Homo sapiens: one gene and its partners. The protein of the gene in region 3 interacts with the protein of the main gene of each other region in a pairwise test. Each region holds a gene or a part of one and is shown on either strand. Other genes may lie near its edges.

Region 1 (3,750 bases), on a different chromosome or scaffold from region 3:
GGTCACCACTCAAGACAAGAGCAAGTCTATTTTCAGAAAGCACAGGGGGTGCTCTGTTTCTCTATCCTCCCTAACAAATAGGCTGGGCTAGACCCTGGAGGGCAACCATGGAGGAGTGTGGGAAGGATTCACCCTTGCTTCAGAAGCTCCTTGCAATCAGGGACCAGGGTAGTGTGACAAATGCCACTTCAAGGTTAAACTGGACATGACCAGGGGAAGGTGTCAGGCTGTGTGTTGTTACAGATTGTATATTTGCATGCCTGGGGGTTACCAGGCTGTACGCATATAAACAGGGAGGAGGCAGGCTCTGAGAACCTGCCAGGGTGCCTGGGATAAGCTGTGACTTTTTGCCCCTGATGCCATAAGTTGGAGGGTCCTCTGCTCAAAACATATGGTACACACTTCTCCTTCTTTTCATCTGGTATCATGTATCATCTCTCAGATCCAATAAGAAAACATTCCCACGTCCTTCCCTCCCTCCCTAGTACCAAGGTCCTCATCTCAGTTTTCATGGGTCCATGGAGGGCTGCCTCTAGTGATGAGCTGGAATCTTAAGGCCTGAAATAGAGCCAGACTGCAGCAGTCCCAAGTCCTGGAGAGCTTCAAGTAACTGCTCCCGCGCAGAGCCAATAAAGGAATTCTCCAGGAAGGTAGGCAGGCCTCCTACACCATCCCGCAGGGTATACAGGGGCACTCGCACCAGGCCCAGCACCTGTAAAAGGAAGGAGACAGGAGACACTAGGGCCCCAGGTGGCTCATTCCCTTAACTCCATCCTTTCTCCAGCAGATCAGGCCTCACCCCTTAATACTCCAGCAGAACCAGGCCCAAGGCTCACACCTCACTAAAGCCTAGTGGCCCAACCTTCTGCAGGAAAATGACCCAAAACATATTATCTAGCTCTATCAATTAATCTTTCCCACATCTGCTTCTAAACCTCTAGTGGCTACTGCCTCAAAGATGTATTCATACCCTTTCACCAGTGGTTGTCAAAATGTGGTCCTCAGATTATTTGCATCAGCATTATTTGGGAACTTTTGAAAACTACAAATTCTCAGGTTTCCTCTCCCCCCGCCCCACCACCAATGCAGGAATGCTGAGAGAAATCGCTATTTTAATAAGACGCCCCGATGATTCTGCTACCTGCCAAATTTTGAGAACCACCTTCATACATAATCTATCTACTAGCCCTGCCTGAAATATCAGGGCCACATCTCCTACACAAGAAAAGCAAACCCCAAGAATAAAACCTAGGTTGCCACACCTAGATAATGTGATAATCTATCACACTGTCAATAGGGAACAGCAGAGAGACATGGATGAGTGTGTTCTAGAAAGGATCTCTCCTGGTAAAGGGTGGGAAAGACCTTTACAGAAAGCCCAGGTTGGCAGTACTAATTCAGAGTATAGATGATCACGATCCCAACTCCACCAAGAAAGCTGGGGAGAGGGCAAGGTCAGAGGGGCAAAGACTTTTCTCCAGGGATGCTTTCTTGGGGGAGAGAAAGCTTTGGGAGAAGAGGAAATTGGGAAAGGGACAGAGTCCCAGGCTGGTCCCACCTCCAGCCCGTGGTCCTTGGCGCGTGTTGCGCCGGCCTCCACAGCCAACAGCTCCTCGAGCGTCAGACGCTTGGCATAGAAGTGGGCCACAACGCGTGGCCCTGACCCGACGTGGGAGCTGCGGTAGTCAGTGCGCTCCACGCGGAAAGCGGCAGCCGCTTCGCCCAGCTCCTCGCGCAGCTCGCGGTTCAGCCCGTCCTCTAGGCTTCTGTCCTGCGTGTCCACGAATCCGCCGGGGAAGCCCAGGCGTCCATCGAAGCGCATCTGCATCTGCGGGAGGGGGAAGCGGGGATTGGCAGGGGCGCCCCAGAGGAGACCACCAGAGAGGGTGCGGGGCTCAGGCAGAAAGTGGCCGGGCGCGCCCCCTTCTCACCAGTATGGCGTAGCGCAGCGGGATGCGGCCGAAGAGCATCCCAGGGTCCGGCGCGTAGAGGAGAGCGTGGCACGCATGACGCCAGCCCGACCCCAGCGCCAGGGCCTCGCCTAGCTCCAGCCTGCGGGCTCCGGCCATGGCCGGACACTGCTCCTCTGCTGTCCCGAAGGCCCAATGGGCAGAGGGGCGGGTCTCACCTCGGACCAATCCGAGCCTGGGCGGTGCTGCAAGGCCCAATCCCTGCAGGGATAAGGGGAGGAACCTAGGCGCCTGGGGGCGGGGCGCCGCGACCGGTGCGGGAGGCAGCTAATCAGGGCGGGGCTTGCAGACCGGGTTGAAGTCCAGGGCCCAGGAACCCTAGGGTAACCGAAAGCAGCCTCTGGGTTGGGCCTGCGGTGGGGCGGGGCTAGAGGTGTGGCCGCGCCCTAAACCTGGCGCAAGGCCGGTACCTAAAGGCTCCTGGGAGCCAAAAGAGCAAGTCAGGGAACTAGCTTTGGTTGGGTTCGGTGGTACACAAAGCACAAGGCCTGGGTTGGGGTTAGGAGGAAATGAGACTTGCGGCGGGTCGGGGCTGAAGATGTGGCAGCGCCCTGAACCTGGAGAAAGGCTGGTACGTAAACGCCTGCGTCGCAATCTGGAGTCAGCTGGAGTGTCCCGGCAGGTGAGGAAGAGCTGGGGCGCTCAGTTGAGTGCTGGGAGCCAAAGAAGTAATAACTACCTTTGGTTGGGTGTGGTGGTACACAAAGCACAAGGCCTGGGTGGGGGTTAGGAGGAAATGAGGCAGGGTTGGCCTCAGACACCAAGGCCTATCCTAGGGAAATGGAGATGGACAGGCGCCATGGTCTGACAACTATCTTGAGTGGTGAAATTGAGGGGACTTGGTGACTGAGTGAATGGGGAAGAGGGAGCGCTGGGCTAGTGGTGGTTCCGAGTTTCCTGGATGTGGTGTCATTTTCTGAGAGGGGGAGAGTAGGAGAAGGGTGAGCAGTGATAAGTGTAGTTCTAAGGAATTGGGGTGGCCATAGGCAGTGGGCAGCTGATCGTGGGGGTCTGACGCACAGGGAGTGGCACATAGAGAAGTCACAGGGCAGTGAGATTTTCAGGGGAAGGGTGGGGGTGGAAGGAGCTGTGAGTGAAATCCTGTGGCACAGGACTGGGAGTGAGGAGGGGTGAGAGATAGAAGAAGCCTCCTAGGCTTTCTAGTCTTTCCCTCAAACCCCCTCAGACCTCTGAGCTATGAAGGAGGGTGGGTTACCCTACCACAAGGGCAGAGGCCTACTCAGGGCCTGATGCTGAGATGCAGGATCCCTCACTCCAGGCCAGGCCTTCCCCACCCTGCAGAGCGCCCCTACACCAGGTGTCGATATTGATTATGCAATAGAAAGCAGGAGGCAGCTCCTTGAGGGGGGCTGGGCATAAACTCACAGCCTGTAAGTGACGGCATATGGTGGGAAAGAGTCCGGACCCACCCAGAAACAGGTTTGTGACCTTAACAAGTCACTTAACTCTCTCAGATCCCAGCAGCTCATCTGTTAAGTGGAGATGATACCAACCTATTAGGGATGTTGAGATATGTTAGGCACTTAGAACAGTGCCAGGCAGAAAGTAAATGTAGCCATTCTTGGAGTTGAGGGTTGGGGCACAGTGCTATGTCTTACGTTGAGGAGCCAGGGCTGGGCACATACCTATAATCCCAGCACTGTGAGAGGCGAGGTGAGAGGATCATTCAAGGTCATGAATTTGAGACCAGTCTGGGCAACATAGCGAGACCCCGTCTCTACAAAAAATAATAATAATAAATAAAGACCCAAGTGTTGGA
Region 2 (3,650 bases), on a different chromosome or scaffold from region 3:
AAGCTGTGATCTCCAACTTGTGTCAGACCATCTGGAAATGAGGTACATTTCCTGTCAAACAATGTGGAACGTTTTAATAACCACATATTCTTTAAAGTTCAGGGAACCAAAAGTAATGTTCTAGTTCTATCTTCACAAGAAATCAGCAGTTTAATCTTCAAGGGCTGAGATGCAGCAGGAAACTGGAAGAATAGACCAAGTAAAGAATTCAAATGAGCTTGCTCACATTAAAGAGGCAGCAAGACTCATCACTCTATGAACAAAGACTCAGGAATCTTTAGGACTAAAGGAGACACTCATTGTCCACCAAACAGCTAGATCTAGGCATCCAGGCAACACAGGCTCCAGGGGAGGTCCTCATGATAATAAGGACTACATCATGCCTCCAGTAACCCCTGCCATACCGTAGAATTATAAAAAAGTTGGTAAAGATTCTACAAGTTGAGTCATTTTGATATTTAGCAAGTTATTCCAGTTATGCTTCTTTTAATTCTATGAATCTCAGAAATATCCCAGAAAGTTTTATGAACCATCTCTTTAAATCTAGGCAGTGTAGGAACTACAAAAGCAGTAAATATTAATATACATTTCTAGTTTATTCTCAATTATTTTAAAATGAATCAACAGTTTACAATTATTTTCTATCTATATTATTTTGATAATTTAGAAAAATATTTAATAGATTAGCTTCAAAGTTACCATTCTTATTTCAGTTTTTTGCTCAATATTCTATAGTAACAAATGCAGGCTAGGACATCTGAATCATATGTTAATAAAAGTTTAAAAACAAAAGGGGAGAAGACAACCTTTATTTAGCACATCCACTCCAGGCTACATGCAATGTAACATTCATTATTTCATTTATTCCTTATAATATATTTAGGTGGAGAAAATGTGTACCAGATGGTTTGGTGTGAAATTATACCTAAGTTTCCTAAGAGACAGATATCATCTTGTCCACATTTTAGTTAGGGAAACCGAACCTTAGACAGTTGAGAAACACAGGATCTACTGGACTTCAGAGCCTCTGCTCTCAACCATTAAGCTAATTAGTCAGAAGTCATATCCAGAAGATTGCCTTTGTATTCCATTTTTCTTGTATTGTGAAAACTAGACATTTTAGGCAAAATAAAACTACCATAAAGGGACCTAAACTGTGATATGTCTCCACTTTCCTGTGAAGAGTATCCCAGCACAGGATTCACAGAAACCTAATCCTTTTCAAACGGTGTTTGATGGAAGTGAATACCACTTTTCTGAGGTGCAACAAACAGCTAAGCGGAGAAAAATGATCCCATTGACAATATCAATCAAGATGCAGAGCTAGCATCTGCTTGGCAACTTGACTACGATGTTCTAAAACACTTTAAGTAAAAAAAAAAAAAAAAAAAAAAAAAAGCTTTAGAGAAATAACTCTAGGTGCCCTCTCAATTTTAATAAGATGTTATGACTTCCACTAAGCACATGGAATACATTGTCTTTCTGATCTATGAGCTTTAATATGTTAGTCATGATGACATTTTTTAGCCACCACTCCTTTAAACTTGAAATCTCAAGGTAGTAAGAGAAATTACAAATACAAAATTTTAAATATTTCCAAATGATCTCTTAATTAGCATCAGCATGAATGATACCAGTATAAAGGAAGAAAGGGTAAAAACTAAATACAGGGTTATGGCTGATCACTAATACAAAATTTATATTTGGCCTATAAATATTTTTAAAGACCATTTGATCACATCTGGACCCAGCTTTGAGAAATAGTGCTATATAATAATTAAGAACTGTAATTGTATAATTATAAATTTTTTTATTGGTTTGTTTCTCCATAATATATAGAATTTATGTGTGAGGGTTCAGGTGATCATTAGTACAAAAACACAACAGGCTTAGAATATTACATGATTGCTTCTCCCATAGTTCTTAGAAGTCAGAGTCCAACTTCTGCAAGTGTGGAAGAAAGATAAATGATGAAGAGATAGAATAAACGAATGACACAGACAGCAACCCACCATGTTGACAAGACAGATCAATTTCCCATTACCCTGTCAAATGCTAATGGAAAGCAACCTCCATGTTCCTGCTGCTACACAGATCTTAATTCTAGATGTCAGGAGATCAGAGGGAAAGACACATCCCAAACTTGCCTAGATCTGGCTGTGTAAGAGCAGCATCCTCTGCAAGCATCATCATTCATGCTTACAACCTCACTCTGTGCTAGGAACAGACAGTAAGAGACTGAAGGCTGTGGACAAGGTAAGGAATGACAACTCACAGACTTTGCCTCCATGGGCTTGACCACAAACTTCTCAGCTTGTACAACCCTGCCTCTGCCACAGGCACCAGCAACAATGCAGAGATGCCGCACATTTATAACTCATTCCGAGCCAGCTATGTCATGAAGGTTTTCTTGAGGCTGTGCGTTTATAAATCTGGGACACGTAATCAGAAGCCAGTCAATTAGAGACGCAAATTTAGACCAAACTGAGAAGGTCTGGAGGATGATTTTTAATCTGAGAAACATTGACCAATTATCTATATTTCTCTTAAAACCATTTCTTGGCCGGGTATGGTGGCTGTCATCCCAGCACTTTGGGAGGCTAAGGCGGGCAGATTACCTGAGGTTAGTGGTTCAAGACCAGCCTGGTCAACAGGGTGAAACCCCATCTCTACTAAAAATAAAAAATAAAAAATAAAAAATAAATTAGCCAGGCATAATGACACATGCCTGTACCCCGGCTACTTGGAAGGCTGAGGCAGGAGAATCGTTTGAACCTAGGAGGTGGAGGTTGCAGTGAGCTGAGATCGTGCCACTGCACTCCAACCTAGGAGACAGAGACAGATTCTGTCTCAAAAACAAAAACAAAAACACAAAAACCATTTCTTGACCACATATAAAAAAATTAAAGCATATCAAATACCAAAAAAGCATACAACCTACCTCCATTGGTCCTATTTGGTTGCTGATCTGGAGTTTGGGCTTGAGGTGAATAATACTGTTGCTGCTGGTAATTATTTGAAGGAAAATACTGGGAACTGGGGCTCCTCCTACACTCCCGAATGCTGGAGAAAGTCTGTGAATGGGGAATTCCTCTTTGGAAAGGGGAACATCTTGGAAGACGAGGCTGAGGTGGTGGCAAATGATCAAATTCCTCTTCATCCTCCAGACTGTATTGGTCATATTCTTGATCACTACATGTCCCTTTTTTTCCTGAACTCAATGACACACTGGAACTATGTCTTGATACAGATGCTGAAGTAGAAGCATAATCTTGCCTGAGACCTATAAAATAACAAATAGTACTCTAATGTATTTTGATCTAGCTAACATTTAGTTATAATTAACCAAGTATTAGATGAAAAATTGTGCCAAATAAATTACTCACAGAGACTTATTATCTTGTTCTCAAGTTTACTAAATTGACAAGTTTACCAAGACAATAATCACATTTACCTATGAAACAGATATCTAATATTGGACAATTCTGTTTTGCAAAAAGATTGCCCCAATTCCAGTGAGGATTATATATACCTGCCACAGCTCATTCGTTAATATCTATCAATTTCCCCTTTTCAAATCAAGAGATATTTTAGAAGGGGAACTTAGGAAGAAATATTCATCTCATTATGAATAGTTTGCTATGAGTTAA
Region 3 (3,650 bases):
CTTCTTAAATATTGGCATGTCAACAAAGGTTGCTGCCTTAGCTCCTTATTTACGTTTTTTTTTTTTTTTTTTTTTTTCTGAGACAGAGTCTCGCTCTGTCGCCCAGGCTGGAGTGCAGTGGTGCGATCTTGGCTCACTGCAAGCTCTGCCTCCCGGGTTCACGCCATTCTCCTGCCTCAGCCTCCCGAGTAGCTGGGACTACAAGTGCCCGCCACCATGCCCGGCTAATTTTTTTGTATTTTTTTAGTAGAGACGGGGTTTCACTGTGTTAGCCAAGATGGTCTCGATCTCTTGACCTCCTGATCTGCCTGCCTCGGCCTTCCAAAGTGCTGGGATTACAGGCGTGAGCCACCACACACACCTGGCCTCCTTATTTATGTTTACTCTTCTTGTTGTAACCAGAAGTAAAGAATAACTGAGGACAAAGACATCTGTTCTTAAGCAGCTGTAAGATATCCCATAGTTCTCTCCACTTCTGAGTCCTAGTTTGCTGCCTGTAAACTTGAAGGAGTTGAATTCAGATTCTCTGAAGGCCCTCTGAGCTCTAACAGGGCCAGCATGAACCCGAGAACAAGGTCTCCTTCCATCTGTGCCCTACACACCTCACTTGCTTTACCACAGTCCCTGAGCTCTAAAATGCTCTGAAGGAACCCACCATGTTGCCTATCAGAAGAAAAGGAATCAATACCCATGCAATATTCTAAGTATAGCAAAAGTTGGAATGGTAGAGAATGTTAGTTGCCTGCCCCAACATCCATTCTTCTCTCCTTCCTTAGTTTAACAGAACCAGAATTTACCTGGGGCAGCAATTCACCCAGCCTCACCAGCAGGTGACAGAGCATGTGAGCCACGGTGCTGTGAAGAGAGCCGGGAAGAGCTCTTGAAGGAGTGAGGGGCAATGCCTTCTTTGTTCCTTCCTCCACCACACTGTATGACATGTGCCATCAGGCCAGGCGTGGTGGCTCACGCCTGTGATCCCAGCACTGTGGGAGGCCGAGGTGGGCAGATCAGCTGAAGTCAGGAGTTTGAGACCAGCCTGGCCAACATGGTGAAACCCCATCTCTACTAAAAATACAAAAAATTAGCCGGGTGTGGTGGTGCATGCCTGTAATCCCAGCTACTTGGGAGGCTGAGGTAGGAGAATCACTTCAACCTGTGAGGTGGAGGTTGTGGTGAGCCAAGATCGCACCATTGCACTCCAGCCTGGGCAACAAGAGCGAAACTCCACCTCAAAAAAAAAAAAAAAAAAAAAAAAAGTGCCATCAGGGTGGGAGCTCTAGCAGCCATCCTGGCCCTGAAGATGAGGTCCACCCTTAGTGGTGGGGGAGCGCCCTGAGCCGGAGAAGCCTGGGGTCCTGCTCACTGTGCAGATCTGCCATGCCTGCCCCACACTGCCCACCTCTGAACCTCATTCATGCAAGAAATGCCTACCTTATTTAAGCCATTAATTTTGGGCTTTTCTCTTAAAAGACCCTGTAGATAAGCTTATCAAACAGAGGCGGTCAGCAGAAATTCAGAGAGACTTAATGATAAAGATGGGGTATCAAAAGCCTGGCAAAGAACAAAGCTAACTGGATTGATTCCGTACATGGCATGCTTTCTTAACAGTTAAAAACACAAAAACTAGGACAATACCTCAAACTCTAAGAAAAGCCTCCAGGTTTCTTCCCACTTCTGGACACCTTCAAAGAGTTCCTTGTGAACTTCATAGTAGTTTTTTAACCGCACAATCTCAGCATCGTGGAGCTGGAGCAGACTTTCTGTGTAGTCCTCTGCAAAATATAGGCCCAGTAGTTTAAAACAATTCCTCTAGTATTTAGTATCCAATTTTACGAATCCCCGATTCCCTAAAATGGAAATAGATTCTTTCCTTATAGTAAACTGATACAGGAAGAGGCGTGTGTGTGTGTGTAATAGATATATAGTGGTTAATAAAAACCAGCTTTGTCACAATCAGCCTGGGGGAGTAGGGCCTAAGAGACTAGGATAGAGACTAAAATAATGTTGTCAAAAATCTGCATCATCTCTTGCCTTGTCTTCGGTTTCTTTCATATTCTGCTTTTCTGTCTTGCCCAGCCAGTAGAGGGGTGGATCACAGAAAATGTGCAAAAACATCTGTTGAATTTAGTTGGGGTAGCTCCATCTTTATATTCAGTGCAGTTCAGACTAGCATTCAACTGGACTCCAGGAGTCAAGCTCCTTTTGGCTCAAACGTAGGCTCTGGCATTTACCATTATATGTCTCTGGGTTAAATGACTCAGCATTTATGTGCTTTAGTATCCTCACCTCTTGACATGAGGATGTGAAATAATATTAAGGGTTTGACACTGCACCTGGCAAAAAGTAAGCACCTGATAAAAACTTAAGCTTCACAGCTAGAGGCTACAGTGACATATTGCTTCAGAAAGCAAGAGACCAATATTTCCCAATAAAATTTGCAAATGCTTTTTCATACAGGAATGGCAATTATGCTAAATGTCTTGAAAAGGTGGCTTTATCTGTTCAGAAAAGGATATACTTCCTGTTGAATGTCTGGATGTCTTAAAAACTAGTGAGCAGGCCACATGAAGACCCCACTTTTGGCTGGGTGTGGTGGCCCAACACTTTGGGAGGCCAAGTTGGGAGGATTGTTTGAGCCTAGGAACTTGAGACTAGGCTGGGCAACAGAGTAAGACCTGTCTCCAAACAAACAAACCAAAGACCTCACTCTTGTACTAACCAGCACAGAAAGGGGCAAAAGCTTGTCTCTGCTCCTGGCTATAAAAGCACTGGTCCCAGTACTGAACCAGCTCCACTCGAATTGCCTCAATCACTTTCTTCATGTTTTGCATTTTCAGTTCTTCCAACCGATCCACTTCTAATTGCAGCTGAAAGAAAGAAACTTGTTAAGGGTGGCTGCCATAGTTTTATATTCACTCAGGTTTGCAAAAGATCCCCCCCTTTTAAGTAAAATTATAATGCAAAGCCACAAAGGTATTATAAATCAACACTTTTTTTTTTTTTTTTTTTTTTTTGAGACAGGGTCTCACTCTCTCGCCCAGACAGGAGTGCAGTGGCGCGATTCTGGCTCACTGCAACCCTCCACCTCCCAGGCTCAAGCGATTCTCCTGTCTCAGCCTCCCAAGTAGCTGGGATTACAGGCGCACGCCACTACCACCTGGCTAGTATATACAGGGTTTCGCCATGTTGTCCAGGCTGGTCTCGAACTCCTGACCTCAAATGATTCACCTGCCTCGGCCTCCCAAAGTGCTGGGATTAGAGGCATGAACCACTGAGCCTGGCCAAATCAACAACAGTCTTTATGACTAACACAGAAGTGCTAAGAGAAGACTGCTGACCCAGTACCCACTGGGTTTCTTACCGCTTTCCGGACCTTGGCCTTTGACCCAGACATAATGGTGGCCACAGCTTCTCTTTCTTCTTCAGGTATTTGCAACCTGTCCCAGAGCTCTCGGATTTGAGTACGCAGCCCCTCACACACTGCTTCATTTTGTGATTTCTGCATTTCCAGCTACAGCATAGAAAGCCAGTGTCACTCACGGCAAAGCAGCAGCACAGAGGCTAGCCCTCTAGCCTCCCGCAAAGAAATGTCTGGAGTAGAGGAGGAGGCACTTTCATGAGAGTTCAAAGTAGCATGTTTTCATGCCTCC

The links.
Region 1: the proteins of PRC1 (region 3) and NUDT16 interact in a two-hybrid assay, tested with the Homo sapiens proteins (one large-scale study listed by BioGRID).
Region 2: the proteins of PRC1 (region 3) and SLAIN1 interact in a two-hybrid assay, tested with the Homo sapiens proteins (one large-scale study listed by BioGRID).

The regions. Positions count from the first base shown.
Region 1 is NC_000003.12:131,380,124-131,383,873, reverse strand, and holds the start of NUDT16 (U8 snoRNA-decapping enzyme), read right to left. Parts: upstream 2,101-3,750; 5' UTR 2,070-2,100; coding exon 1,932-2,069; exon of another isoform or gene 1,829-1,931; coding exon 1,559-1,828; coding exon of another isoform or gene 1,283-1,558; exon of another isoform or gene 1,093-1,282; intron 713-1,092; coding exon 533-712; 3' UTR 531-532; coding exon of another isoform or gene 432-530; 3' UTR 1-431. UniProt on the Homo sapiens protein: RNA-binding and decapping enzyme that catalyzes the cleavage of the cap structure of snoRNAs and mRNAs in a metal-dependent manner. Part of the U8 snoRNP complex that is required for the accumulation of mature 5.8S and 28S rRNA.
Region 2 is NC_000013.11:77,746,147-77,749,796, reverse strand, and holds part of SLAIN1 (SLAIN motif-containing protein 1), read right to left. Parts: intron 3,284-3,650; coding exon 2,942-3,283; intron 1-2,941. UniProt on the Homo sapiens protein: Microtubule plus-end tracking protein that might be involved in the regulation of cytoplasmic microtubule dynamics, microtubule organization and microtubule elongation.
Region 3 is NC_000015.10:90,977,523-90,981,172, forward strand, and holds part of PRC1 (protein regulator of cytokinesis 1), read right to left. Parts: intron 3,512-3,650; coding exon 3,362-3,511; intron 2,868-3,361; coding exon 2,720-2,867; intron 1,773-2,719; coding exon 1,636-1,772; intron 1-1,635. UniProt on the Homo sapiens protein: Key regulator of cytokinesis that cross-links antiparrallel microtubules at an average distance of 35 nM. Essential for controlling the spatiotemporal formation of the midzone and successful cytokinesis.